7 linked regions of the Homo sapiens genome follow. The protein of the gene in region 2 interacts with the protein of the main gene of each other region in a pairwise test. Each region holds a gene or a part of one and is shown on either strand. Other genes may lie near its edges.

The links.
Region 1: the proteins of ITGB1 (region 2) and UPF2 interact in a two-hybrid assay, tested with the Homo sapiens proteins (one large-scale study listed by BioGRID).
Region 3: the proteins of ITGB1 (region 2) and ITGA4 interact in binary tests that used the Homo sapiens proteins (3 or more experiments, as listed by UniProt).
Region 4: the proteins of ITGB1 (region 2) and ITGA2 interact in binary tests that used the Homo sapiens proteins (3 or more experiments, as listed by UniProt).
Region 5: the proteins of ITGB1 (region 2) and LYN interact in binary tests that used the Homo sapiens proteins (3 or more experiments, as listed by UniProt).
Region 6: the proteins of ITGB1 (region 2) and TOM1 interact in a two-hybrid assay, tested with the Homo sapiens proteins (one large-scale study listed by IntAct).
Region 7: the proteins of ITGB1 (region 2) and ENG interact in binary tests that used the Homo sapiens proteins (3 or more experiments, as listed by UniProt).

Annotation. Positions count from the first base shown.
Region 1 is NC_000010.11:12,035,051-12,039,809, reverse strand, and holds part of UPF2 (regulator of nonsense transcripts 2), read left to right. Parts: intron 1-4,368; 5' UTR 4,369-4,386; coding exon 4,387-4,751; intron 4,752-4,759. UniProt on the Homo sapiens protein: Involved in nonsense-mediated decay (NMD) of mRNAs containing premature stop codons by associating with the nuclear exon junction complex (EJC).
Region 2 is NC_000010.11:32,919,380-32,924,323, reverse strand, and holds part of ITGB1 (integrin beta-1 isoform 1A precursor), read left to right. Parts: intron 1-583; coding exon 584-739; intron 740-1,588; coding exon 1,589-1,684; intron 1,685-1,977; coding exon 1,978-2,067; intron 2,068-3,938; coding exon 3,939-4,079; intron 4,080-4,239; coding exon 4,240-4,439; intron 4,440-4,944.
Region 3 is NC_000002.12:181,477,274-181,482,217, reverse strand, and holds part of ITGA4 (integrin alpha-4 isoform 1 preproprotein), read right to left. Parts: intron 3,462-4,944; coding exon 3,394-3,461; intron 2,082-3,393; coding exon 1,952-2,081; intron 621-1,951; coding exon 535-620; intron 1-534. UniProt on the Homo sapiens protein: Integrins alpha-4/beta-1 (VLA-4) and alpha-4/beta-7 are receptors for fibronectin. They recognize one or more domains within the alternatively spliced CS-1 and CS-5 regions of fibronectin. They are also receptors for VCAM1.
Region 4 is NC_000005.10:53,090,352-53,092,815, reverse strand, and holds part of ITGA2 (integrin alpha-2 precursor), read right to left. Parts: intron 2,298-2,464; coding exon 2,217-2,297; 3' UTR 1-2,216. UniProt on the Homo sapiens protein: Integrin alpha-2/beta-1 is a receptor for laminin, collagen, collagen C-propeptides, fibronectin and E-cadherin. It recognizes the proline-hydroxylated sequence G-F-P-G-E-R in collagen.
Region 5 is NC_000008.11:56,010,903-56,015,264, reverse strand, and holds the end of LYN (tyrosine-protein kinase Lyn), read right to left. Parts: 3' UTR 1,096-4,362; downstream 1-1,095. UniProt on the Homo sapiens protein: Non-receptor tyrosine-protein kinase that transmits signals from cell surface receptors and plays an important role in the regulation of innate and adaptive immune responses, hematopoiesis, responses to growth factors and cytokines, integrin signaling, but also responses to DNA damage and genotoxic agents.
Region 6 is NC_000022.11:35,305,586-35,310,529, reverse strand, and holds part of TOM1 (target of Myb1 membrane trafficking protein), read right to left. Parts: intron 1-4,944.
Region 7 is NC_000009.12:127,848,159-127,851,658, forward strand, and holds part of ENG (endoglin isoform 1 precursor), read right to left. Parts: intron 1-3,500. UniProt on the Homo sapiens protein: Vascular endothelium glycoprotein that plays an important role in the regulation of angiogenesis. Required for normal structure and integrity of adult vasculature. Regulates the migration of vascular endothelial cells.

The sequences.
Region 1 (4,759 bases), about 21 Mb from region 2:
CATCTCTACTAAAAATACAAAATTAGCCGGGCATGGTGGCACATGCCTGTAATCCCAGCTACTCGGGAGGCTGAGGCAGGAGAATGACTTGAACCCGGGTGGCAGAGGTTGTGGTGAGCCGAGATCGTGCCACTGCACTCCAGCCTGGCGACAGAGTGAGACTCCATCTCAAAAAAAAAAAAAAAAAGAGAGAGAGAGAGACATAATTGTAAGTTCTGATGCCATTCTTTGTAGTGTCCTGTGGTCCTGAAATGTTACTTGTTGATGCGTCACATCAGAAAATGTGAAATCTATATAAACTTTTTTCACTTAATGATTAATATCCTTCAATAAGATCATGTTATTACCTTAGATATTAAATTGTCCCCATATGTTTCAGCCAGAGTCTGCTAAAAGTTAAAAACATTACATGAGAACTCCTTAACCATTATGAAGGATTCTTTCTACTCTTGAGATTCATAATTCTGTGGGTTGCTATAGTCAGTATTTACCAGCATGTCTCCCATCTCACAATTTGGTACTCTTAGGATTCTTTGGTTCAGAGAATGGGTTCAGATTCCCATTCTGTCACCAGCTGTGCAGGCCTTGGTCAAGTTACTTGGTCAAGTCTCAGTTTACTCATTTATAAAATAGGGAAAATAATACCCACCTCATAAAGATTTTAGTATTAAATGAGATAATATACGTAAAATGTTTAGTATGGTACCATGAGTAGTGTATTAGTATTATAGTCTTTTTGAAAGTTTGCTTGCTTTAAGGGCGTGATGTTTTCACATTAAAGTTGGATATTTAATTGAAAATGTATAAGAATCAATAACTACACTTCTAGATAATAGAAATGCTGCCCGGGTATAGTGGCTTATACCTGTAATCCTAGCACTTTGGAAGGCCGAGGCGGGAGGATGGATCCCTTGAGCCCGGGAGTGTGAGACCAGCCAGGGCAACGTACTGAGACCTTGTCTCTATTTTATTAAAACAGTTTTTTTTTAAATTAAAAAAATAGATAATATAAATGCTAATGTTGTCTTGGCATAGAAATGCTTTTTCTTTTGTTGTTGTTGTTGTTTTTTTTTGTATTTTTGAGACGGAGTCTCCGTCTTTTGCCCAGACTGGAGTGCAGTGGCGCTATCTCGGCTTACTGCAGCCTCCGCCTCCCGGGTTCAAGCGATTCTCTTGCTTCAGCCTCCCGAGTAGCTGGGATTACAGGCACCCTCCACCATGCCTGTTTAATTTTTGTATATTTAGTAGAGACGGGGCTTCCACATGTTGGCCAGGCTGGTCTTGAACTCATGACCTCAAGTGATCTGCCTGCCTTGGCTTCCCAAAGTGCTGGGATTACAGGAGTGAGCCATGGTGCCCAGCCTGCTTTTTCATATATTAAAGGTAATTTGTGTGTGTGTGTGTGTGTGTGTGTGTGTGTGTGTGTGTGTGAGATGGAGTCTCACTCTGTCGCCCATGCTGGAGTGCAGTGGCATGATCTTGGCTCACTGCAACCTCTGCTTTCTGGGTTCAAGCAGTTCTGCCTCAGCCTCCCCAGTAGCTGGGATTACAGGCGCCTGCTACCACGCCCAGCTAATTTTTGTATTTTCAGTAGAGATGGGGTTTCACCATGTTGGCCAGGCTGGACTCAAACTCCTGACTTCAGGTGATCCGCCCACCTTGGCCTCCCAAATTGCTGGGATTACAGGCATGAGCCACCGCACCCAGCCCCTAATGACGATTTTAAAAATAGGCCCAATAGCTTTTTTGTTGTTGTTGTGAGTTTTACCAGTGGGGTTAACTACAGCTATTAGGTGTCACTGTCAAAATAAATGCATAGAACAAGGGAGTGGAGAGCAATGAGGGAGTAAAAGAAAAAGGAGAAGGAAAAAGGTAGTTATGAGAAGGTACAGGCTGTGGCATGTACCTGCAAAAATTAAAGTGTTTCTGTTGGTCTAGGTTGCTTTCTGTGAAATTAACATTTTAATAGAGTACTGAAGTAAAGTATTTTTGTATTTAAAAAATATCAATATTACAAATGCTTTTTTTGGTAACCTAGTTTTAAGTGCTGTAATTTAAAACCTATATTTGAAAATATTTAAGGATACTATTGCTTTTAATAAAAAAAAACGAAGGGCTGGCCGGGCACTGTGGCTCATGCTTGTAATCCTGCACTTTGGGAGGCCAAGTCAGATGGATCACTTGAGGTCAAGAATTCAAGCAGCCTGGCCAATATGGTGAAACCCATCTTTACTAAAAATACAAAAATTAGCTGAGTGTGATGGCACACACTTATAATCTCAGGTACTTGGGAGGCTGAGGTGGGAGGTTCACTTAAACCCGGAAGGTGGAGGTTGCAGTGAGCCGAGATCACACCACTGCACTCCAGCCTAGGCAACAGAGCGAGACTCAAAAAAAAAAAAAAAAAGAAAAACAAAAACACTAAAGCTCAAAAACACAGTGGCTCATACCTGTAATCCCAGCACTTTGGGAGGCCCAGGTGGATGGATCACTTAAACTCAGGATTTCGAGACCAGCCTAGTCAACATGGGGAAATCCCATCTCTACTAAAAATACAATTACCTGGATGTGGTGTTGAGCACCTACTGTTCCAGCTACTTGGGGGGCTGAGGCAGGTGGGTCACTTGAGCCTGCGAGGTCGAGACTTCAGTGAGCTGTGATTGTGCCACTGCACTCCAGCCTGGGCGACAAAGTGAGACCCTGTTTCAAAAAGAAAACATAAAACTAAGAAATTTAGGTAATTTTCTACCTCTAAAATAGAATTTTGATTTTCTTTTTTTTCTTGAGGCGGAGTTTTGTCCTTGTTGCCCAGGCTGGAGTCCAATGGCGTGATCTTGGCTCATTACAACCTCCGCTTCCCGGGTTCAAGCCATTCTCCTGCCTCAGCCTCCCGAGTAGCTGGGATTACAGGCATGCGCCACCATACCCGTCTAATTTTATATTTTTAGTAGAGACGAGATTTCTCCATGTTAGTCAGGTTGGTCTCGAACTCTCGACTTCAGGTAATCTGCCTGCCTTGGCCTTCCAAAGTGCTGAGATTATAGGCATGAGCCACTGTGCTTGGCCGAATTTTGATTTTCTTATATACAACTCTTAGATAATTTAGGAGTTAAAACGTGAAACACCATGCCTAAAAGAAATTAGACAACTAGTTCTGAGTAGAGAAATATATTTTTAGAAAAGAAAAATTCAGAATTTTCCTGCAAAGTATAGTTTTTTGTTCCACAGTTACTTTCAGTTAACTATAAGCCTGTACTATAGGCCAATGCTATCCAATAGAACTTTCTGTGGAAATGTTCTGTATCTGCCCTGCTGTGTATGGAAGCCATTAGTCACATGTGGAATTGAGCACTTGAAATACAGATACTGACTGAAGAACTGAATTTCAAATTTTATTTAATTTTAATTAATTTACATTTAAGTAACCACATATGACTAGTGCAGCAGTTTTTGGGTGATAATTTTTTCTCCGACGGATATTTAGCAATGTCTGGAGTTATATTTGGTTGTCAAAATGAGGGAGGAGCTACTTGTATGCACTGCATAGCAGGCAGGGACACTGCTAAACCTCCTACAGAGCACATGGTGACCCCTTTCCTCTAAAACCAAAGGAGTATTTTGCCCAAACTGTCAATGGTGCTGAACTTTAGAAACCCTGGGCTAATAGCTACTCTGTATTGACAGATATAGCACAGAACATACGGATTTTAGGTTCATGTTTATTTATAAATTAACTTTAACTAATACAGATGAAGAAGTTAAAAGTCTAGTTTAATTTGAGATAGTTAACAGTTTTTGTATCTGAAAGTTTGATGATAAGGTTAGAGCAATGAAGTGAGATTCGTGAGTCCGCTGTTCTGTTTTGTCCGTTGACATATAGGAGGCAAGGGCTTGTTTTTGTTTCCTTTCTCAGCTGAAATACTGACATTGAATATTATATGAAATAGTGAACTGCCATCTTTCATGGTTGTCAAATGCTAGGGTTAAAGCTGACTCAAAATGTTCACAGATATATTCTGAAGTATTTACAATTAAATGACATATTGTTTTGGAGTTGATAGTGGCTGAATCTGAGTGATGGGTACGTGGAGGTTCCTTATATTATGCTCTCTACTTTTGTCTGGGCTTGGATTTTTCCTTATAAAAAGTAAAAAACAAGTACTTAGACATAGGCCTAACTAATAATGATAGGATGTGGAATGTGATGAATAACTTATTTTGTAACAGAAATAGTATTCATTTTACCTGCCTTTATTTACTCTTTTACAATTGCCAAGTTGCATTAATATGTTCTGTTTAAAAAAATAGTGTGATATCATTTTAAAAAGTCACTGCATCTATGGTACTGACATTCTTTCCCTCTTACAGATTGTCCTGGGTCACATAATGCCAGCTGAGCGTAAAAAGCCAGCAAGTATGGAAGAAAAAGACTCTTTACCAAACAACAAGGAAAAAGACTGCAGTGAAAGGCGGACAGTGAGCAGCAAGGAGAGGCCAAAAGACGATATCAAGCTCACTGCCAAGAAGGAGGTCAGCAAGGCCCCTGAAGACAAGAAGAAGAGACTGGAAGATGATAAGAGAAAAAAGGAAGACAAGGAACGCAAGAAAAAAGACGAAGAAAAGGTGAAGGCAGAGGAAGAATCAAAGAAAAAAGAAGAGGAAGAAAAAAAGAAACATCAAGAGGAAGAGAGAAAGAAGCAAGAAGAGCAGGCCAAACGTCAGCAAGAAGAAGAAGCAGCTGCTCAGATGAAGTAAGGCA
Region 2 (4,944 bases):
GATAAAGTAAATGAGTGCATAAACAGTACTGATTGAGGAGTTAGAATGGGTGAAATTATCCTTAAACAAGATACTTATTTCTGTTATAAAAAAAGGAAGCCTCATATGGTGGGCTGATAAAGAAGGTGCATGGCATAGAACATAGAGCAGAGATGGGTGGATGGGGACAAGACAGCAGCAGTGGGGTAAAGTAAGGATAGGCTCAGACACTTTCATTTATTCAGCAAATGCTCATCAAGGGCTTACTGCTTGCCAAGCAGTGTGCTGGCTTGCTAGCTGCTGGAGATATGATGATAAGCAGAACTAAACCAAACCAAACAAAACAAAAAAACAGTTTTTAAAAAGAACTGAGAGATTGAGAGATACGGATGGTCAGGCAAGATATCGTTGTACATGGGATGGAAGAGCTTCATTCAGTGGGCTTTGTGTGTTTCTCAGCAAGATAATTACCATTGTATAAAGAGAAGACACAGAAAATACAGAATTAGGTTAAAAATACAATGGTGGCCTATATGAAAATTAAAGGATTTTTGTTGAATTACTGTGAATAGTGTTTTAAAATTGAAATCCTTTTCTTTTCAAGTCACTGATTGGCTGGAGGAATGTTACACGGCTGCTGGTGTTTTCCACAGATGCCGGGTTTCACTTTGCTGGAGATGGGAAACTTGGTGGCATTGTTTTACCAAATGATGGACAATGTCACCTGGAAAATAATATGTACACAATGAGCCATTATTATGTAAGTGCCTGGTTCCTTACATAGTGAATGTGTTTATGTTGGATTTTAATGTTTAATACTAAGAGCTTGTGGGTGACTGGCTTGGGGTTTCTCAGGGTTTGAGGTTTTGCTGTTTTGGTAAGTAGGGGTCCTGATTGAAAGTGCAGGAAAGCTAGTGTTGCTGTTTGTGAAGATGCAGCTTTGTATTTGCTTCCTTCTGCTCAGACAAGGGCCTCACTGGGGTGGGAAAGGGATGCCCAGATGCCACTTTCACTCTTTGCCTCAACTCCCCGCCCACAGCATTTGGTAGCACAGTCAGTACTCTTTCTAAATAAATAATTTATCTAGTCTCATACTCTTTGTTTTATACGATTTTTAAAAGCAGTCACTCTGCCTTTATTGAAAATAAATATTGGCAAAGCATTCAAGTTCTAGAAGAAATCCAAATGGTAAATCTTGGTCTTTTTCTTAAGTTGTAGATAATAGAATATTTAATTACTGACTATTCTTTAATTTCATTGTCCTTATATTTAATATACATAGATAAACTTACTATTTAAAACCTTTTGAATATGGAATTTTTTATTCATACATGAAAGTAAAGAGAAGAGGATTAGCAATTCATGTATACACACGACTCACTTCAGCAGTTTATATTTGATACTGTTATTTGAAAGCAGTCTTGTAATCTAGTTATATGTATGCAACTAGATGTAATCTAGCTATATATGGATTATATATGTAATCTAGTTATCTAAAGCAGTCTTGTAATCGAGTTATGTGTAATCTTGCATGTATAACTAGATTGAAAAATTAGAAGAGATTATAAGGGTGTATTTAAATACTAAATTATATTACTTGATTTCTTAGGATTATCCTTCTATTGCTCACCTTGTCCAGAAACTGAGTGAAAATAATATTCAGACAATTTTTGCAGTTACTGAAGAATTTCAGCCTGTTTACAAGGTAAATGTGTGAGATAAAAAGAACAAGATTCTAAACATTTTTGATTGTTAGAGGCAAATCATGTCTGAATTGAAATGTGGGAAAATGCCACCAGATAGGCAAACCGAATTTTACAAAAGTGGTTTATATTAATTTTTAATCACATATTATAAAACTGGTTTCTAGGTTTGACTCCTAAAGTTAGTTAGGAGGAAACATGGGAACTGGCATTTAAAGATAAAAGTTGCTCAGTGGATCCTAATTGGTTGAATGAATAGCAGTTGTATTTTACGTGTTTTATCTTTTAATTGCAGGAGCTGAAAAACTTGATCCCTAAGTCAGCAGTAGGAACATTATCTGCAAATTCTAGCAATGTAATTCAGTTGATCATTGATGCATACAATGTGAGTACATCTTAAATAAGATCAGTTTTGGACAATACCCTGTTGAGAATACTTTGTACAAAGAAAGTAAAACTTCCTTCATACACACTTTAGCGAGCCCAAAGTACTACAGAAAAACTTAAATTCTGTATGTATCTAGAGGAAAAACTTTATACATATTGTCTTACAAAAGCAAGATTCATGGCCTAAACAAAGTGAAAATGTGATAAAGGCATGTGGGGAGTATTTCCAAATAACTGTTTGTTTATCATTAAGGAATAGATCTCCTTGTTAGAAAGCAATTGTAAAACATAACTTACATTTAAACTTACAGGATTTCTCCAATCTTTTTCCTCCCCAAAATATCCTTTATAGAGTCATCTATTCTGATGAATTGTGCTAGAAAAGTTTTTTTTTTTGCCAATTCTTCTCTTCCCATATATTCAGAGGATATGGGTTTCTATTTCAGGAGGTACACACTCATATATACGTATACCATAAAATATATAAAAATGTAAATATACATGTGATTTGCCTATTTCAAAAAGATTTATAGTGTTGTTTTCCCCTCACAGATGGGAGGAAGTTGAATTGAAATTAAAGAGGAATTGGCTTATCCTTTTTGAGCATAATTCAGTGTACTTTAATCACACCGAGTTAGCCTTCATTAATAATCATTTAAATAATCTGAAGGCGGTTGTAATTTGGTAGGTAACCCTTGTGTGTCTCGTGCACCACTTTCAGCCCCCATCCCCCTAACCCTTTGGCAGCTTGAATTTTAGACATTTTTACTTCATGTCATGGGGGTACCATAACGCTTTGGAAAGGCCAGCCTACCATATGAGGCTTCCCTTTTTTATGGGGTACCATAATGGTTTGGAAAGGCCTGACTTGGAGGGGTTTTTATAAAGGTTTTTAATATTTTACTTGTTCCACAGCTTTTCCCATTCTCCCCTGTCTTAGATAATTTTCCTAACTCTTGTTCTTTCAGGGGTGTGAACAAGAGATAGCTTGCCATTGTACCCTTCTCCATTTGTCCTGAATAGTCTCATATGTTAAACAAGCCCTGGCTTGAATCCTTCCTTCTTGGGGGATTTTGTTTTTTTTTTTTTTTGGCTGGGCTACAATGGTTCCTTAAGCAAATTTGTTCCTAGACTGCATAGTTGATTGTTTACCCTAGTCCATAGTTAGCTGGAGAGGTAGGACTACAGAAATGCCATTTTGCCGATGGGGAAGACAGCATTTATTTCGTTTTTTTTTGGGGGGTTTCTGTTTTTGTTTTTGTTTTTGTTTTTTAGATGGAGTCGCACTCTGTTGCTCAGGCTGGAGTGCAGTGGTGTGATCTTGGCTCACTGCAACCCCTGCCTCCCGGGTTCAGGCGATTCTTCTGTCTCAGCCTCCCGAGTAGCTGGGATTACAGGTGCACACTGCCATGCTTGGATAAATTTTTTTTTTTTTTTGTATTTTAGCGGAGATGGGGTTTCACTGTGTTGGCCAGGCTGGTCTCCAACTCCTGAGCTCAGGCAGTCCACCTACCTTGGCCTCCCAAAGTGCTGGGATTACAGGTGTGAGCTACCACACCCGGCCTATTCCACATTTTTAAGACTCCTCCTAATTAGTAACAGCCCTCTGCACTGTGTGATCCTGAGTATTTTAACTCAGTGATTAAAACAGGAATACTCTTTTCAATTGTGTATTTTATTTTAAAGATTTGATCCTTATTAATTAAAACCTGTTTCTCTGGCCTCTGTGTTTTCTAGTTACTCAATTGGATTTGGCTTGTAGATACTTTATTGAAATATATTTTTTTCTGAGCAGTTTATCCATTGGTTTTATGCATTCAAGTAGCATTTTGTTTGACTTTTCCTGTGTATAATTAGGCATTCTTTTAGTCCCTTTCCTCAGAAGTCATTTTGGAAAACGGCAAATTGTCAGAAGGCGTAACAATAAGTTACAAATCTTACTGCAAGAACGGGGTGAATGGAACAGGGGAAAATGGAAGAAAATGTTCCAATATTTCCATTGGAGATGAGGTATGTTGTATAAAGCATTTTCTGTAGAAAACATTGGTTATTTATAAGCAAATTTAGTTTATAGTTTGAGAAACATTAAAATAAGTGAGCAACTTTTTGAAATATTTTTTAGTAGATTTAAATTGTTTAGTTGGTTGTTAATCTTTTTTTTCCCTTCAAGGTTCAATTTGAAATTAGCATAACTTCAAATAAGTGTCCAAAAAAGGATTCTGACAGCTTTAAAATTAGGCCTCTGGGCTTTACGGAGGAAGTAGAGGTTATTCTTCAGTACATCTGTGAATGTGAATGCCAAAGCGAAGGCATCCCTGAAAGTCCCAAGTGTCATGAAGGAAATGGGACATTTGAGTGTGGCGCGTGCAGGTAAGCTGGGTGTTGTCAGACAGTGACAGAGCTACATTGGTTTAGAGAGTATAGGCAGGTCATATTTTGGGACATCCAGAGAATATCTCTCTATTTGGAGCAAATTATTTTTTCCAACCACGGTTGCTCACCACAAGATCAGTTTGATGATCTTGTGTGTGATATTTATAGAAAGTTCCTTCCTGCCTTTTTTTCTTAAAGTGATTACTCTTTAAAATAAAAGATTTTATAGCCATGAAAGAAGTATATTCAACAAATTGTTAAGGTAGCGTTTCTCTCATGTGAGAGCAATCAATTTTCTAGAACAAAATAAGCTTGTGTAAAATAACGTTTATAGGAAAATGTTTTGGAAAAACATCAAACCGATGATGGCGATTTCGTCTGGGAAATGGAATTATGAAGCAGTAGAAGATGTTTGTCTTGTACTACATGTACTTCTGCATTGTTGGAATAATTTTTAAAAAATAAATATGTGTTGTAAAATACAAAAGAGAAAATGGTATTT
Region 3 (4,944 bases), on a different chromosome or scaffold from region 2:
CAAAAGGGTTTGGGATCCACTGTTACATTAATATGCCTTACTTGCAAAAGTATTTTCTCAGGAATTATCTTATTGATCCTATAGAGGGGGCACCGGAAGTGTTGTTTGCCTCAGTTTTCAAAAGTAAGGCTCAGAAAAGCTGGGTGACCAATGTTCACATAGCGACACAGCAAAAACTAAAACCAGGAATAATATTTCCTTCTTTCTAGTCTTACTACAAAATATGTAGCTACCTCAACTTCTTTTCAGCTGTGAAACTGTTCACCATATACTCCCTGGACATTTTTAGATAGTTCTATCTTATAATTTTCTTAAAACAATGTCTCGTTTGACTTTTGTAATTTTTCAGAAAGTTTTTTGCTAAATTTCTTCTAAAACCATAACATCTTTCACCAATTCCACTAAATGTAATAATCTGTTCATCATTTCTAATCTTTCTTTCCTTACAACATTCACAGTTTCTCCTTTAATATCTTATTCATGCAATATATTTGAACCTTTGTGAAGAAATAAATATAAAAATGTAATTCTTACCTTACCAATCTGCTCATGTTGAGGAGCTCCTCCGACTACTTCGGTAGTATGCTGGCTCCGAAAATGACCAGCTCCGACTGAATATCCTTTAAGAAAAGGGAGAAAGTATGAGAGTCCTGGGTAAAGTACATCATATGGTAATATGGGTAAAATAGATCATAAAATTAAATGATACCGAATTCAAAATCACTACATTAAGCAGTTAAGAATATTTAGCATAGAGATACTCAAAATTGGTCATTCATTATGTTTTATGCAATTTTGATATGTTTTACAAAACTGCAGTCATATGGTATGTATTTCCGAGTCCTAGAAATTGAAAATAGCATCTTTACATCTGGTGCAGTATAATCAGTTTCTAGGATTACAACAGACATATTTTAGAGTATATTAAATATAAAATCTCAATTGGGAAATGAAAACTTTAAACTTTAAATAAACATCTTGCTGAAGTTCAACTTTTTTTGCCACCAAATCTTTGTGATGACTTTTCGATGACAAAAAATTGTTCGTATTTTATGTGATAAAAGGCGTAACAAGTTATATTTCTTGAACGATTTCAAAGTATCCTTTCATCATAAACAAGAAAACATTGAATTGTAACAAATTCTTCTACTTGAAATTTCTTCTGTTTGAATAGAAAGAAAGAGTGCTTATTTTATAATTATTTCTGAGTGTAAGATGCTCACATTTGACACACATACAGTTTAAACAAAGCTGGATTTTCTGAAAATCTATAGGAAAAGCATTTATTTTCTTGTAATGGACATTAATGCCAGAAAAGTTTGCATTTCTGTTGAAATACAGATGATAAAGTATCCTACTATTGACTTATGAGATGACAGTGAGGAGGAGGAAGATGATAAAAATAGTTAAGCTCTGGGAAATATTCTAAGAACTTATGAGGTGAAGGTCAATGAGCTGTTTTTAGACCCATGTGCTTCATGGAGCCCCTCATCCAGAATGTGGTGGACAGTACCACTGGCTTTCAGTTGGTGCTTAAGGAAACTATACTTACTTATGCAGATGTTTAAATGAGTTAATTCATGTAAAGTTCTCACAAAAAGTTCCTGAGATATGGGAGGCACTCAACAGAAACAACCTGTATAATCAGTTGACTACATAGAGATAGAAACTTACTAGTGTTTCCTAAAGTGAACTACAAAGAGTAAACTAAACTAGGAGTTCTATTAAGAATTATATATTGATGATTTTAGTCACATGTGTAAATGTAAAATACTGAGTTCACTGAAGTTTCATAAATCCTATCCTTAAGAGACAGTTTCTGAACTGCCTAATTATTACTGTAATTATACTGGCCATTTAGATCTTTGGAAAATACATTTTCCTTATTTATAATTACAGTACTAGTATTTGTAAGGCACAGATCATTTAAGTTTGTCAATTTTTATAGTACCTAAATAACTTCCAAATTTTACTTGATTTTGTTTGTCTAAAAAAGCCTTGTATTTATTTGTAGTTATATTGTAGACAAAAAGAGAGCCAGTCCAGTAAGATGATCCTGGGGCCCCCATCACAATTAAATCCTGTAAGAAAAAAAAAACTATTATTATTTAAACTTTAATCTCACCACCCCAAACCTCCTCCAGATACACGATAGTGAAGAGAACATATTTTTATAATAATCAATTCCTGAAGTAGGAATATTCTGTGAAGTTAAAACATACTAGGAAAAAAAAAAAGCCAGAGAAGTTGGCTAATGGATTTCTAAAAGCGAAATCTCAGAGAAGAAACTCTGAAACTCTCATTCAATGCATTTATCAGTGGATTTCAAAAGTTGAAGGGACAAGTACTGAACGCTAGAGTAAGCTTTTGGGAGAAAGGCAATGTGGTTCCTATTAAAGAAAATCGTATGTGGGTAATTCATTAGTGCTAATTATGGAGATAATCATGTGTTGCCAAAGAATAAAAAGTAGACTTAATTTACTTCTATTTGCAAAGAACCCCTGACTAATAATGTTAGCTTAGGGAAAACATTTCTAATAATGTTAGCTTAGGGAAAAAAGTCCAATGGAATGTGGGGCATATTTTGTTATACAGAGGAAAATTTAGGAGAAGATTGGAATGAGCATGCCCTTGCCTGGTATAGTATGAACACTTTCAGCAATTAAATATCTTTAGCATATTTCTATACTCCTAAACAATCCTAAACTTAAAAAAAGTCAACTTAAACTGAAGAAAGCATTTTCTTTGTAAGCATTTTAATATAACTGTTAATATGTGCAGACACTGTCAACCCCAAACTTGATATAGTGCCTGATCTTCATGGAGTCAAAAAACATTCCTGAATTCACAGTGTGTTTTTAAGAAAACTGAGAGATTTGGGGTTGAGTACAACTGTGCCCTTTCATACATATCCTAGAATGTTAGAAAGAGAGTAAGAAATCTTGGGAATATTGTCTATCTGATTTAAGGGGATATTAAATTCTTAAATTTCCCAATTATCATAATTTAATGAAAAATATAGACTGATATTCTTCCTTTGCCCCTCAACTAGAAATTTAAAATAACATACTTGGGTTGATATTTTCAATACCTAAGTTAACAAGACAATTAACCATAGCTACTTTTGATTTTCATTAAATTGTTGATGAAAGAAATGTTCTTTAGTATAGATTTTCATTCATCTTATGCAGTATAGCCACCTAAATATTGATATTTTATTGAAATATATGTGGAATTTTGAGTGGCAAAAATTAAGTTGTAATACTCAAGTTTAAGAGACATGATGAAGATGTTACACAATTTTTACTTTAAAACATATCAGTCTTCCAAACCATGAGAAGAATTAAGATTCTATATGTAAACATTTATAGCAGCTATTTTTTGAACAATTACCTTTGTGTAAAAACTGGATATTCCAGCTTGACATGATGCAAAATTTTCTCCAAATTTTTTCACATAATCTAAAATGAAATATTAAAACAACTCAGAATTTTATCTTAAAGATAAAATCTCCATAATTTGTTTCTTAAATCCTTACAAAAATGTCCTTTAAGGTCTATAGTTTGTATTTTTTAAAAATAAAAACCAGTAACCTTGATATAACAAATCCCTTCCATATTAGTATTCAAAATATCCCTATGAAATGGCAATAAAAATATCTCCCTCTGCTTCTTCATAGGAAGCACACACAGCATATACTCAAAAAATTTTTGTCAAATGAGTAAGACAGAGGTAGGATTTGTGATTTTGAGCCCATGCTTTCTTTTTACTGTGTATATCTAAGGTGTACAACATCAGGTTTGATATGCGTATACATAGTGAAACAGTTACTACACTTTACATACCTCCTCACGGTCATCTTTTTTGTGCATTTAGAGTGAAATCTACTCTCTTGGCAAATTTCCAGTGCACAATTATTAACTCCAGTCCTCATGCTGTACATTAGATCTCTAGACTTATTCATCCTACACAAATGCCAACATCTTTCACCAACATCTTCCTATTCCTAACCCTCTCTCTGCTCACCTTCTTCTCTATGTATTTGACTTTTTTAGATTCCACAGATAGGTGAGATCATACAGTATTTGTCTTTCTGGGCCTAGCTTATTTCACTTAAAATAATGTCCTTCGGGGTCATCCATGTTGTCACAAAAGTCAGAATTTCCTTTTTTAAAGGCTGAATAATACTCCATTGTATATGTTTATGTATATATGTGTGTATATATACACCTCACACAATTCCTTATCCATTCATTCATCTGTCAATGGACACTAAGCTTGTTTCTGTAACTTGGCTATTGTGAATGCTGCTGCAATGAACATAAAAACGCAGATCTCTTTATGTGGTACTGATTTCATTTCCTTTGGATATATACCCAGAAGAGGGATTGCTGGACCATATGGTAGTTTTATTTTTAATTTGAGTAACTTCTCTACTGTTTTCTATAATGGCTGTACCAATTTACATTCCAGCCAACAGTGTGCAAGGGTTCCCTTTTCTTCACACCTTCGCCAACACTTGTTATCTCTTGCCTTTTTGATAATGACAATTCTAATAGGTGTGAAGTGATATTTCATAGTGGTTTGTAATTTGCATTTCCTTGATGATTGGTGATGTTAAGCACCTTTTCATCTACTTATTGGCCATTTTGATGCCTTCTTTGGAAAGAAAGCCATTTGGTCTCTTGACTAATTTTTAATCAGTTATTTGGTTTTTTGCTATCGAGTTGGTGAGATCCTTATACATTTTAAATATATAGGACTTATGCGAATATTATTTCCCATTCTGCAGACTGTCTCTTCACTCTGTTGATTATCTCCCTTGCTATGCAGGAGCTTTCTAATATAGTCTCATTTGTTTATTTTTGCTTTTGTTGTTTGAGCTTTTGGTGTAATTTCCAAAAACTCATTGCCTAGACTAATGTCAAGTAGCTTTTCTCTTAT
Region 4 (2,464 bases), on a different chromosome or scaffold from region 2:
TAAATAGTCATTTTTTTGAGACAGGGTCTTGCTATGTTGCTTAGGCTGGACTTGAACTCCTGGGCTCAAGCGATCTTCCTGTCTCAGTCTCTCAAGTAGCTGGAGCTTCAGGTACACACCAGCACCACTAGCTGTTAAATATTCTTTATCAAGCTAATGACTAGTTTCTCCAGTCTTTTTTTTTTTTTTTTAAATAAAATTTTGTTGGAATGAAGCAGCAAATTCTCACAGCTGTTAAAAGAATTGGACTCTGGCATACCTAACTGGAGAATACCATGCTGTTTTTTCTATAAACCGCTGGCATTTTATGCCTTTTTTGTTTGTTTTGTGTTGTCAACTACAAAGTAATTCTGTAAACAGTACAGATAGCCCTGGACTGCCACCACGGGCCAGGCCAGGGTAGTCAAGGTTGTCCATATGCACATGGGCAGATAACCTGTTTTCCTTTGACATTTTTTTCCAAGTCAAATTCTTGGAGGATTGTGTATTTGTATTATAGGAAGTCCAGATCATAGACTTTTAAAACTAAAAGCATCACTGCTGAACTCCAGCTCAGTCTTCCCATTTTATAATGAGGACTCTGAAGTTTATAGAGGTCAAGGACTTGTCCAAAGCTTTAGATATGTAGTGTCTGTGCCCTTTTCCTCTAAGTTTCTCCTAGAGAATGTGGGGGCTCAGGAACAGAGAAAATAAGGTGCAAAAAGTAGAAATGGGTGGTGTTTCTCAAAGTGTGGTCCATCTGCATCCTAGTGACTGGGGTGCTTGTTAAAATGCAGATTGCTGGGCCTTATCCCAATCTGACCAAATCATCTCAGGATCTACCTTTTGAACAAACTTGCCTAGGTCAAATTCACTCTTGTGGAAGTTTAAGTACTTCAGAAACAAGACAGCCACAGAAGGTGCACCTGCTAATTTGGTGGCTTCCAGTGCCTCATCTGTAACTTCTGGTGAAATCCTGAGATGTCTTACTTTACATTGTTTACATCCCATAACATTCCAACATTTAGAAATTCACTCGAGCTTATTTTTCTTACTTGTTTAGCACTAAATGAAAATAGCTCCCTGAAGTTAAGGAGTTTATATACAGTAATTCATGCAAGTGTGTAAATTAAACAGATGACTTTCCCCCCTAATATCTAATGCACAGCAGCTGTCCTGAAGGAGTGGGAACTTTGGATGAGGGGTAAAGGAGGGGATAACTTTGGACCGCTGGAGAGAAAGTCAGGCTGTAGAGGGCTTCTATAATAATGGTACCACCAGGAGGTGGGAGAGTGGTTCAGTAAGGGAGGAGGAAGGTTGCCAAAGAAATTACTCATCTTTCAGAAATTCACTAGGTTACTGCCAGTCAGCCAAACAAATCCTAGAAGAGAACTGTTGTGCCTCCTAAAAGAGAAAGGAAATTTCCTCCTTTTCCTTCCTCTGGCACAGGATGGGCTTCTAGCAGATGGGATTTTACATGTTATATTCTGAGTTTTAAACAAAATTTTGTGCCTTATTCTCTATATCGCCCCCTCTCCTAACTTAAATGGACATATAGGAGGTATACTCTAAGCTCAGTTATTCAAGCATGTTTTGATCATTAGAGCAAGATGGGGTGTGGAAGGGGCAGCCGTGGTCTAAAAGGAACCAACAACAAATTTTACCTAGTTTATAAATAAAATTATCACTTGGAAGTATCATCTGTGGCAACTTTGGATGAGCAGCATAAATTGAAAAAACCTGTGTTTTGTTTTCCCCTCTTGTTAACATCAATATTCATTAAAATATACACAAGTGGAAGTACTTACATATCAAGCACTTCCACTTCTGTAGTTGCTGTTTAAAGACAAATATTTTAAAGAGAACAGTTTTCCCCCTTAAAATCTGAGAGTATCATATTTTTCTTTAAAAGTTGTCATGCTTGGAAGCATTTCATGTTTCTGACACAATGCAAATTAGAATGTAAACTCTGGGCCAGCCAGTTTAAAGATTACTTTTTTTCCCCCATCATATAAAATAGGTATTTTCCCTATTATTTCCCTACCTGCCCCCCGCACCTCCCCCACCCCCCACAATTTCTTCATTCCAAACTGACCTGCAGTTTTCTCTTAAAATACCAGGTTAGTTTACCTACGACATGATAAAAAAAATATGGGATTTAAAAAGAAATCCATTCACGCAAACAGCAAACCCTGGCTGGGATGCTGCCGGTTCCCACTGCAGGTAGGTCTGCTGGTTCAGCTACTGAGCTCTGTGGTCTCATCAATCTCATCTGGATTTTTGGTCATCTTTTCATATTTTCTTTTGAAGAAGCCGAGCTGTAAAGGTGATGATATAAGAATGTTACCACCCGTGGCTTATTTTGTAAGGTGCCTCTGACCCCCTTGGCTGCCCACGTCCTCTGATGCACCTCTGGGAATCCCTGAGGCTCTGAAGGGAGGTGTGCAGACTGATGACCTGATATCTACCACCTGCTAGAAGGAAA
Region 5 (4,362 bases), on a different chromosome or scaffold from region 2:
ACCTCCGCCTCCCGGGTTCAAGCAATCCTCCTGCCTCAGCCTCCTGAGTAGCTGGGATTACAGGCATGTGCCACCATACCCAGCTAATTTTTTTTGTATTTTTAATAGAGACGGGGTTTCATCATGTTGTCCAAGCTGATCTCCAACTCCTGACCTTAGGTGATACACTCGCCTCGGCCTCCTGAAGTGCTGGGATTACAGGCATGAGCCACCGTGCTTGGCCCTAATCTTTTTTTAAAAAACCTGAAATCAAAAACATACCTGACCCTAAGGGTGGTAGATAAGGGATAAAGGACCTATCGTCAAAGCCCAGCGTAAGTCTAACAATAATAATAATAATAAAAAAATCACAGATAATTTTCTTGCTGTGTGACATGGTATCTACTTTTGGGGCTGTAGATTAAGGCCTCTTTTATTTCTAAAAGTTCTGCGTTAACATTGAACATTGGCCAATCTAGATTATTTCTAAAGTCCTTCCAAAGACCTAGAGATAGAGGCCGCCAAGATTCCCTGTCATTTCCCCCTTAAAGAGAAATATTCAAGATCTGTGAATATCTGTGGCCATCTCGGGAATTCTGTGACACTTTTTGGCACTCTGACTTGAAGTATTTAATAGATTTATCAGCACACAGGAAATTAAATTGGAAGGCTTTCCTCTTACACGTCTATCAAGTTAAAACTTTTCAGGATAAAATTTTTATCAGTTTTAGTAACATTCATGTTATGAAATGGAACATAAATGCTACTGAAACTTAATTTTTTTTTTTGTAGAGACAGGGTCTCATAATGTTGTCCTGGCTGGTCTCAAACTCCTGGCCTCAAGTGATCGTCCTGATTCAGCCCCTCCAAAGTATTGTGATTACAGGTGTGAGCCACTGTAGCTGGCCAAAACATTTTATTCTGAAGTGTAGTCTCTACAAATTGTCTTTAAAAGTGTGAATGGTAAGTTAAATTCTTGCATTACTTTTCTACCCAAATAAAATTACTTAAGGAAAAATTTCCCCTCCCATCTGTGTGGGCTCAAATGGTGCATCTTGTAAGTAATACCCTTGCTTACTCAGAACACTCAGCTGAGTCAGGGAGATTCTACACAAAGGTGTTTCACTGGTTTTATTTCACAAGGAAACAATATGAAGCGAAGCCAATCTATTCCTTCTGTGGCTTTAAATGCTCCCGATCTCTCAGCTGTGAAATAGTGATAGCATTGTCCAGATCTTCCAGGGTCGTTGTGTGAGTTAGAGATAATTTTTATCATTTGCCAAAGCACAAGAGGGCCCTGAGTAAAGAATGTGTGTATGGGTATCTTTGTATGTTTATAATTACCATTTCCATCAGGAAGAACAGCAAGACTTCACTTAATCTAAAATATTCGTGGAGTTAAAATGTAGGGAATAGAGAACTACGATCTCTCTTCCACCAGCCAGAAGTGGAAAATAAAGGAAGATGCTAAGAGGAAAGCTGGGCGGTTTGATCTCATCTGAGAGGTGTTCTTGGCTGAGGAAGCAGGAGATGTCCGACAACTGGCTGTGGAACCTGGCAGTGACATCAGAAGAGCTGGGGAGCGAGCCCTAGGACCAGCATTTAATTTATTTGAAGGTGTCAGAAGCTGAGGTTGCAGAATTGAGTCCTTTTAGCAGCTACCGCCCCTGGATGTAGTTTGTGAGAGGACGGGGAATAAAGAGAAAGCAGACCCCGACCGGGCACAGTGGCTCACACTTGTAATCCCAGCACTTTGGGAAGCCGAGGCAGGCGGATCGCCTGAGGTCAGGAGTTCGAGACCAGCCTGGCTAACATGGTGAAACCCCATCTCTACTAAAAATACAAAAATTAGCCAGGCGAGATGGTGTGTGCCTGTAGTTCCAGCTACTAGGGAGGCTGAGGCAGGAGAAGAATCGCTCCAACCAGAGAGGGGGAGGTTGCAATGAGCTGAGATCGCACCACTGCAACTCTAGCCTGCGTGACAGAGTGAGACTCTGTCAAAAAAAAAAAAAAAAGAGAGAGCGAGAAAGCAGACTCCACAAGCTGACGTGGAGATGAGTTTATACTTATGATGCTTTCAGTGCCCTCGATCTATCCCTGGTGTAGGCAACAAAATTAATTCCCTCCTTTTAGTTATTATCCTTTTATGCACCCTTGGGACAGCCAGGGCTGCTGGCTTCTGTGGCAGTGAATTTCCCCTAGAAGGGGGCTTGGACAGTACACGTTCCCAGTGGCTCATCAGAAGTACTTTCTGCAAGGGGATTCTGTGGAACCTCAGGAGGTATGCCTGGAGAAGCCACGGAAGCCCCAGGTGGCCCCTACTACTAAGGACACTGGTTTCTAGCCTGTGAGTCTCCTTTAGGTTCAGTGAGCTTCATGTTCACCAGGAAGGAAGGCACGTTTTTTTCCTCCTTCCTTCTCTTCCACTCCCCTTTGAGAAATGAAACCATCTGAGGAAAAAGAAGGCTGGGCTTTGTAATATGGGTCAAACCAAATGGTGACTCTCAAGACTGAGCATACATTATATTCACCAGGGAAGGGTTTTTTTGTTTTTTTGGTTTTTTTTTTTGAGACAGGGTCTCACTCTTGCCCAGGCTGGAGTGCAGTGGCACGATCATAGCTCACTGCAGCCTTGACTTCCTGGGCTCAAGCAATCCTCCCACCTCAGCCTCCTGAGTAGCTGGGACCATAGGTATGTGCCACCACACTTAGCTAATTTTTAAAATTTTTTGTAGAGACTTGCTATATTGCTCAGGCTGGTGTCTAACTCCTGAGCTCAAGCGATCCTCCTGCCTTAGCCTCCCAAAGTGCTGAGATTACAGGCATGAGCCACTGTGTCTAGCTGACTGGAGAAGCTTTTAAAATAGACTGACATACATCTCCCGCTGCACAACAGCTAAGTCAGAATCTTGGCGGTAGGGAGTATGGATTCTGTCTTTCCAGTTCTCTACAATAACCTGAGGTGTGATGACATGAGCCATTTTGCACACCACTGGATACCCGAAAATGCTACAAACACCTATTCAGCCCCTCATTATGCCTGTCTGTCACAGGGAGGCTGGAAACCTATAGCTAAGTAAGGAGACTGTGTGTGCTGTTCATCAAGGGAACGTGTGACTTCCACACATGCTGGACACCAGAGATGAGGCCCAAGCTGGTGAAGGGCCCACATGGAGGTAAGGATCACAGGCTTGATTGGGAGGGAAAGACAAGTGGAAAATGGCAAGAAGAGGAGGAACTGGGAGAAGCAAAACAAGGCGAAGATAAATTTAATAATTTTCTTTAAATAAATTTGTTATGCTAAAAAAAAAACCTCTAGTCATTTTCTAGAGACTTCTTTTTGCCTTAGGGATTCTTTATAGTTCCTCTCCATGTAACATATTGGGTAATACTTGTGGTTCTGAAATAAAATGCAAGCAGGGGGGTGTACACAAAAACCTTACCACTGAATCAAGGGACCAGCTGTGCAGACATTATGTAACAGTAATATTCTATAGTTCTGAACATGGCACTTGTGAATCAATAATTTTAGAATATTTTAGAAAGGACATTTAAAAAAATCACATAGGAAACAAAGTTAAAATTTAGAAAAAAGTAGAATATTTTATCCCATCTTCTAAGCACCTCAAGCCTAAACAAAACACACAGAATGAAATTTTAATGATGCCTGTTAAGCCTATTTGAAAACAAATTCTATCTGGCCCCCATAAACGGATGTTCAGGTGTTCAGGCAATCAACTCCTTGGTTCTCCAATCTGAAATGTTCAAAGGAAGGAGGTAGAACTTGGGCAAGTTTAAAGCATGTAGCTCTGTTGAATCACTTCTAACCACCCCGCCCCCAGCTGATGACCAATTTTTACACTGACCACAGCTGAAAATGTAAATGCAAATAAAAAGCTTGAGATGTTATTGGACGAGGTGTATTAAAATAAAATCAAAAATAGAAATATTAGGTATATACACAACAGCATAAGTGAAACACATCATGTGATACAGAAGTTTCCATTCAAAGCTTACAGGAGAAAAATTTAGTGAACAGAACCGCTTGAACCTCCTGCCACCGTGGCTTATTAGAGCCTTGTAGTCACTTATGTTCCTTCATATCCTTGGGTATAAATAGTCTCATACACATGCTACACAATTTAGAAAAGATTGCTGAATCATAAAAATAGCCCCGAATGTGGCACTTTAGCTTTCTAGAGTACAACTAAAATTAATACTTGATCTTTAACATAATGTTCAAATATTTGAAGCAACAAAGGAAACTCTTATGTTTTAGAAGGCCCTATAAGGTTCTTCAGAGATTAGAATCTTAGTTCTTCCAAACTACATTGTCAAAACAAATCTGGATATAGGAAATTGTGGAAATGAAAAAGCTGGACT
Region 6 (4,944 bases), on a different chromosome or scaffold from region 2:
CAGGCTGGAGTGCAGTGGCACGATCTCGGCTCACTGCAACCTCCAACTACTGGGTTGAAGTTCACCTGCCTCACTCGGCCTCCCGAGTAGCTGGGACTACAGGCGTGTGCCACCATGCCCAGCTAATTTTTGTATTTTTAGTAGAGACAGGGTTTCACCACATTGGCCAGGATGGTCTCGATCTCTTGACCTCGTGATCCACCCGTCTTGGCCTCCCAAAGTGCTGGGATTACAGGCGTGAGCCACCGTGACCCTTTGAATACTTTTAAAAAGTACCACGTCCCTCCTTAATCTGTCCTCCAACATCCTCAGGACCTGTGACCACTCCACTCTGATAATGATCTCCAGAGCCTTCACCCTATTCTGACCGACCCCTCTGGATATAGGCCAGCCATGCTGTCCATCTGGAAATGCAGTGTGGGAACCCACACGCCACATTTACCTGTCCTTGCTAGATACTGTATTTCTATTACTGTACTCAGTGACTATGTGAAATTTTTATTAACCCTACCATGTGGAGCTGACTCCAATAGTTGTGGAAGATGCTCCCCCTGGGCTCACAGCATTTAGCTTTTCTAGACCCCCTTGCAGCCAGAAGTAGCCCTGGGACTTCTGGCCACAGAGATGGAAGCGGGTGTCTCTTGGGCGGCTCCTGGGGAAGGTTTTGCTTTCTTGGTAACAGAGACACAGACAGTTGGTACTTTCACCTGTGCTTCCTACCGTGAGAATGCAAGCACGAGGATGAAACCAATGTGGTCAAGAAGGTTAGGCAGAAATACAGAAGAAGCCACTACTGAACGAATTCATTCTAGATGGACACAGATGTTGTCACTCAAAGGGAAACCCAGCAGGTCTCTCAGTTCTCTCTCTTTTTTTTTTTTTTTTTGAGATGGAGTCTCACTCTGTTGCCCAGGCTGGAGTGCTGTGGCACGATCTTGGCTCACTGCAACTTCCGCCTCACCGGTTCAAGCGATTCTCCTGTCTCAGCCTCCAGGGTAGCTGGGATTACAGGCGCCCACCACCACATCCAGCTAATGTTTGTATTTTTAGTAAAGATGGGGTTTTACCATGTTGGCCAGGCTGGTCTTGAACTCCTGACCTCAGGCGATCTGCCTGTCTTGGCCTCCCAAAGTGCTGGGATTACAGGTGTGAGCCACTGCGCCTGGCCTCTTTCAGTTCTAAGGGGGAATCGGTGAGATGGAAAAGTTGGGAGGATGGGATGCAGACACAGACAAATCCTGCCCAGACTCCAGCACCTACCAGCTGTGTGAGCCTGGGTAACTCCTCGGCCTCTCTGTGCCTCAGTTCCTCCTCTACAGAATAAAGATGACCAAAGCACTCACCTTCCAGGGATGTGTGAGGAGGAGTGTATACATTTCAAGCACCAAAATAAATGCTATCCTCTACAAACATATCAACCACAACATGATTGAGAATTTCAAGCACCCCATAAGAGATTTTTAAATCACAAATATGCAGAAGCTATTTTTTTTTCAGCCAGAAACTTGTCTTGAAAACTATTTTCCAAAGGAATAACTCTTTCCAGACCCAGCGTGGAAAGTTCCATCCATCTCCTAATTTGCTGAGCCACCCTTCCTCAAAACCCTGGCTGCCTCTCCCCTGTATTTTTTTTAACCATAAACCACAAGAGAAACCCTAAAATACCTTACAGAGGGTATTGCTTCCGCAACCCACAATGTTAAAGTCGATGTAACTAACTATAGTACCTAACAAAAGGAAATGTCAGTGAGATAAAGAAAGGTTTTCTAAAACTCCCCAGGTAAGAAGTGAGGCTGTGAAGGCAGAGGCTTGAAGTGGCTGGCTGAGGTACAGATGGCATTTGTTTTCACTCCCCACTTGGGAGTGTAAAAGGTATTGCTGACAATCTGGATGGTCAGGGGTGGAGTGGGCTTTGTATTAGTCAGGGATCTCTAGAGAAAAGGAACTAGGCTGGCTGTGGTAGCTCATGCCCGTAATCCTAGCACTTTGAGAGGCCAAGGCGGGAGGATCACGAGGTCAGGAGTTCAAGACCAGCCTGGCCAACATGGTGAAACTCTGCCTCTACAAAAAATATAAAAATTAGCCAGGTGTGGTGGCACGCGCCTGTAGTCCCAGCTACTCAGGAGGCTGAGGCAGGAGAATTGCTTAAACCTGGGAGGTGGAGGTTACAGTGAGCCAAGACTGCCCCACTGCACTCCAGCCTGGGAAACAGAGTGAGACTCCGTCTCAAAAAAAAAAGAAAAAAAAAAAAAAAGAGAAAAGGAACTAGCAGAAAGAAAGAGAGAGAGAGAGAGACAGACACACACACACACACAGGAGAAAGAGCGAGCGCTTAAGGAATTGGCTTATGCAGGTGTGAAGGCTTAGCAAGTTGAAAATCTGTAGGGTGAGCTGGCAGGCTGGAGATCCAGGAAACAGATGCTGTCCAAGTGCAAGGACAAGGGGAGCCTGCTGGCCAAGTTCCCTCTTGTTCTGGGGAGGTCAGTCTTTTTCCTATTCAGGCCTTCAACTGATTGGACGAGGCCCACCCATGTTATTGAGGGCAATACGCTTTACGCGGGTCTGGTGATTTAAATGTTAATCTCATCTAAGGCATACGTTCACAGAAACATCTAAAATAATGTTTGACCAACTATCTTTCTCCCCTGGCCTAGCCAAGTTGACACATAAAGTTAACCACTACAGGGTTTATACTGCACCAACACAAACAAGTTCAAACAGTAGACCCCTCTGTCTGTCCCTAAATTCTCTGTCTGTCTCAGCCCCTGTGGTCTGGCTGGTTCTTCTCTCCCCCTCCCTTCTCCCCTGGCTCCGTCCTTCCCTTCTGGGAAGACTCCAGGCTCCGTCCTTCCCTTCTCTACCTTCCCCAGCAGGAGCGAGGCCCAGTTCCCCTCCTCAGGGCTTGCACAGTGGTTCTCCACCGCACTTTGCAGTGCTCTATCAACTTCTAAGTTTCCCGTGTCCCTTGAGGAGGAGACCTGGGGGACACAGCCGGGAAGGGGCGGAGCTGGCACCTGAACCCAGCTCTTCTGATGCGGAGACTAAGCTGTGACCCCATTTCAGGCTGCTTACGTCCCAGTGATCAAAATGAGCTACCTGGGATCATGCCAGGTGGGCTCATGGGCAAACTTAAAGACATTTTTAGAGGGACATTAAATTTTTCCTCTCCTGCATTATTTACTTTAATGCAGGATAGGAAAAAAACACGAACATCAAAGCCATGATTTCATGGATATAATTATATAGGATGAGGTCAAATTTTAACAGATAAGCTAATGAAAAGAAAACCCTACGAAAATAATAATGAAGGTGGCATGGGGGTAGACACAAATCACAAATGAGCTACATGAAAGACAGAAGTTTGGAGGGCACTGGCCTAGATCAAGATCTCCTTAGTAAGGCAGTAAAGAGTTAAACTGTCCTGAATCCCCCTGCTTCTCATGGGGTGATGGCCTCAAGCTAATTAGGAGACACTGAGGGTTTGGGTTTTTTTTTTTCTAAAACCAGAAGAGTGGAAGTCTGGGACTATACTCTTATTTCTTTGAGCTCACTAAGGGAATAAAACCTATTCACCAGTTCTATCCATAGGGGAAGGCAAAGGCCTTAATTTCCAAGTAAGAATCTGCTCCTCCCCACAGCCTGAAACCTGACCTGTCTGTGAATGTGGTGGCCACCCAGCCAGTGACCGCTCATTTGCCAGGGACACAAAGACCATCACAAAGGCTGCACTGGAGTCAGAATCTTGGGCTGGCACTTAGCTTGGCTACTAACTTAGACTGGGTCCCAGGAATGATAACACCAGTGAAAAATCACAACAGCTAATAATTACAGAGACTTCCTGTCTGGCAGGAAGTGCTTTATAGCACAACAACACGACAGCCCTATCTGATAGGTGCTATTATTATCCTCATTGTACAGACGAGGACATTGAAGAACAGAGAGGTTAAGTAACTTGCTCCTGGTAACAAAGCTGTTGAGGACTGAACCAGGACTCAGACCATTCAGTCTGACTCAAGCTCACCCTGGGCTCTACTAATATGTGTACAGCTGATACAAAGCCCTTTCTAGACAAAGCTCTGTCATCCTCAAGACAGAAACTTGGGGATCTAATGTGGGTCCTGTACTTACGGATCAGGAAACAGAAGCTTCAAGATATTAGGGCTCACATGGGCACACTGTGGGGATAAGCACCCTCAAGCATCCCCAGTGTGGGTGCTCTGGTACCCCACTTTGAGGAACAGTGTGCTCCATCATTCTGCCTCTGGCCAGCTGCTCCGATTCAGAAGTCAGCAAACTATGAACCCATATGCCAAATTCAGTCTGTTTTGTATGGTACTCGAGCTACAGATGGTCTTTATATTTTTAAATAGTTGGGAAAAAAAAAAGCTGAAGAAGAATAATATTTCATGATATGTGAAAATTACGTGAAATTCAAATTTCATTGCCCATAAATATTTTTATTTATGCACAGTCATTCTCATTCATTTACCTATGGCCTATGTAGCTGCTTTTGTGCTATAATGGCAGAACTGGGTAGTTGCAGCAGAGACCATCTGGTTCACGAAGCCACAAGTATTTACTATCTGGCCCTTTATAGAAAAAGCTCACTGACCCTGGTCTAGTCTGCTAACCAACACAGGAATCCTCTTTATAGTCGCCCTCCCCACCCCGGCTTCTGCCTTCACAGCTCCAGTGGTGGGGAGCTCACTACTGAACAAGGCAGCCAGTTCCATCTTTGCAAGGCTCTGGGGATAGCTATTTATACTGAAACCGAACTGCTTATTCCTGTAACCACACACCATGCCCTTGGAGCCCTGCACATTCAGTTCTATCAGTCCTCCCCAGCACCCATCAGTTTTTTTTTTTTTTTTGAGATTGAGTCTCACTCTGTCACCAGGCTAGAGTGCAGCGGCGTGATCTTGGCTCACTGCAACCTTCGCCTCC
Region 7 (3,500 bases), on a different chromosome or scaffold from region 2:
TGACTACTATCACAATTATTTATGCCCAGTCAGTGGGGATATGTGGGCTCTTCCCCTAAACACACCTCGCTCCTGCCTCTGCCATGCCCTTTCCCAGACCAACACTCATCCTTTGTTTGACCACCTGGCCTTTTTTTTTTAATTTTGGAGAGTCGGGGTCTTGCTCTGTTTCCCAGGCTGGAGTGCAGTGGTGCAATCATAGCTCACTGCAACCTCCACCTCCTGGCCTCAAGCAATCCTCTGCCTCAGCCTCCCGAGCAGCTACAGGTATGAGTCATTATGCCCAACTAAATTTTAAAAATATTTGTGGAGAAAGAGTCTTGCTATGTTGCCCAGGCTGGTCTTGAATGCCTGGCCGCAAGTGATCCTCCCACCTTAGCCTCCCAAAACGTTGGGATTACAGGCATGAGCCACCATGCCCAGCCCCTAGCAAACTTCTATTCATCCTTCAAAACCCTGTCCTGAAAATCTCACTGAAGCCAGTCCCTCCTTTCTTAGGTGCATCCGTCCTTGGGTGTCCTTGGAGAACCAGACCATACATGCCCAGGTGTGCTGTTTTGATTTGTCAGTGTGTCTGCACTCCCAGCAGACAGTGAGTTTTTCCAGGACAAGGAGAGTCCACAGCATTCCATGTCCCAATCAGTTAGTCCAGGGCTCAGAGCAAACATCCACTTCCACTGGATACAGTGAGTTCTAGATTTCTCTTCAAAGAATCAGTATGTCAGTATGTTCAGTTCTTTGTCCTCCATTTTAAAGTTTAACTTCCTCATGGTTTCAGTAAACAACCTTTTCCACCAGTTTTAATCAGTAGTTCACATCTGTTCCCCTGGTCACCTGCTCCATCCTGACTCATCCTGGTCATGTGCTTTGACCTCACAAACCCCTGGTCACCTGCTTTGACCTAAGTCACCTTTAGTTACCTGTTCCTAACCATCCTTCCCGCCAAACTACTCACCCCGCCACTCTGGCTCATACCCCTGCTCTCTCTAAAATAGCTAACTGGAATTAGCTTAGACTGTGCGGTCCAACACTAGCCCGTAGGGGAACGACGTAGCAGTAGGGGCTACCTGCGTCAGGAGTAAGAACCCCTTCCCCTCCCTTGTTCAGATGTGCTCTCGCCATTACTCCATTCTTGAATCGCACCCTTCTGTAGAAGTAAAAATTGCCTTGCTGAGAAGATTAAATTTATGTTCAAGTGCTATTTCTTTGCGGCACTGAGGAACAAGCATTTTGTTTCTAACACCACAAACATCCATTTGTGGAACTGGCTGGTCAGGGCTGCCTCTGACCTGCTGGGTGACCCACATCAAGTCCCCCCACCATTCTGGGACTCTGTTTCCCTATGGCTAGTGGGTGGGGAAGAGCGGGGGTGGATAGGACATATTCTAAGTTCTACTAGGGGTCTGACAGTCTGAGATTTCACCTAAGGATGAAGGCAGGAGGAAGACAGAGCAGGGCATAGATGGGGCTGCTGAAGGTAAAGGCAGGGTCCCAGGGGTTGTACCCCGGATGGGAGGGCCGTTATGGGGACCAGAGAAAAGGCTGAGTGCCTGCGGGGAGAAGATCAGGCAAGAGGAAGATCCCCATCCTCTCCACTGTGGCAGCACACTGCAGTGCTTAGGCCCAGGGCTTGAGCCCCAGTGGCTCATTTCAGGGCAGTGTTACTTGGGTAAATTTCTTCACCTGACTGAGTTATACGAGTACCTCAGTCTCCCCATCTGTCAAATGGGGGCAGAAAGAGTATCTCCTTTGTAGGGCTTTTGCAAGCGTTAAGTCTGACAGTACACATACCACGCTTAGAGCAGCGTCTAGCATACTGTAAGTGCTGAATAAATGTCAGTTGTTATATTATCTCTTTATCCCACCCCCACTCCTGCCACAGGGGTTGAAGCCAGCTGAACCCTGGCTGAGGGTCCCTTCAGCCTCCAAGGCTGGTGCCCCAAAGCCTGGGCTGGAACTAGGAAGCAGGGTCCCAGAGCCAAGGGTAAACAGTTCTTTAGGTCTCCAGCATTCAGGTCACAAAAGTTGTGGGGAAAAGAAGCTGAATTTGGAAGCAGACGGCCTGGAGTTGAAATCTGGACCTGTCATTTGTCCCAAGCCTCAATTTTCTCATCTATAAACTGGGGATAGAGGCAAGGAGGAGCTGGCATTATGCCTGACATGCTGGGGACAGAGGAGAGGTGGCCGCCTCACTCTTGCCCAGATCCACCTCCAGCCCTGGGGCAAAAGAATGGGTCTGTCGCCCGAGGGCCCAGCACCAACACATCCGTGACCACAAGCAAGTCCCTCTGTCCCTCTGGGTCACGTCTGTCTGGCTGGGGTGAGGGAGAATGCTAATGGTCACGTCCCCCGTGTCTCGGGGAGCCCACCCTCTCCTGGTTCACACGGCTCCTGCTCCAGGCTCTTTTTCCTCCTAGCAAATGGGAACGCAGCCTCTAAGAGACAGGTGTTTGTGGTCTCGCTCTTGCGCCACTGACCCTTCTCCAGCAAGTCCCAGACTCCAACACAGACAGCCAGCAGCATGGGGACTTTAAGTCCTCCAGCAAAGGATCCTCCACACTCAGGAACACTCTTCAATCCCAGCCACCCAGCACAGGCCACGAGCCGCTGCAGCCTTGCTGCCGGGACGCAATCCACATGAAATAATCCAAAATACAGGAAAAGGTGCACGTACCAAAACTGTGCATTGTGGTAGTATTTATAACTAGAACAAAGGGGAAACCACCTAAATATTTAACAATAAGCAAACGGTGACAAGTTGATGGGACAGAATATTCCAGAAGTGCAAGAGGATGGTCATGGAGTCCACAGGACAACATGGAGACCTGGTTCGAAAGAAATAGACAAAAGACTCCCAAAATGTGGACCCATCTGGATTAAAAGTAGCTTAAAAAGTTAGAAAAAAAAACTAGTAAGCCATCTACCACCATACTAACGGTACCTGTATCAATAAAGGAGTTCCGAGGTGATTTTTTCCCTTTTCTCTATTTTTTTTGAGGGGCAAGCTGAGGCAGCTATATGGTTAATTTTAATTGCTTTAAAAAAATCTCTACATGCTTGTTCTTTTTTTTTCTTTTTTGATACAAAGTGTTGCTCTGTCACCTAGGCTGGAGTGCGGTGGCTTGATCTCGGCTCATCACAACCTCCACCTCCCAGGGTCAAGCGATTCTCCTGCCTCAGCCTCCCAAGTAGCTGGGATTACAGGCGCCCACCACTACGCCTGGCTAATTTTTGTATTTTTAGTAGAGACAAGGTTTTGCCATGTTGGTCAGGCTGGTCATGAACTCCTGACCTCAGGTGATCCACCCGCCTCAGCCTCCCTCCCAAAGTGCTGGGATTAGAGGCGTGAGCCACTGCACCCGGCCTGCTTGTCCCTAAAACAAAAGAAAACAAAAAAACCCAACATGACAGGAAAGTGTGTCTGAGAAAGTCAAAGTCCCAGCCAGGCATGGTGGCTCACACCTGTAATCCCAGCACTTTGGGAGGCTGAGGCAGGCGTA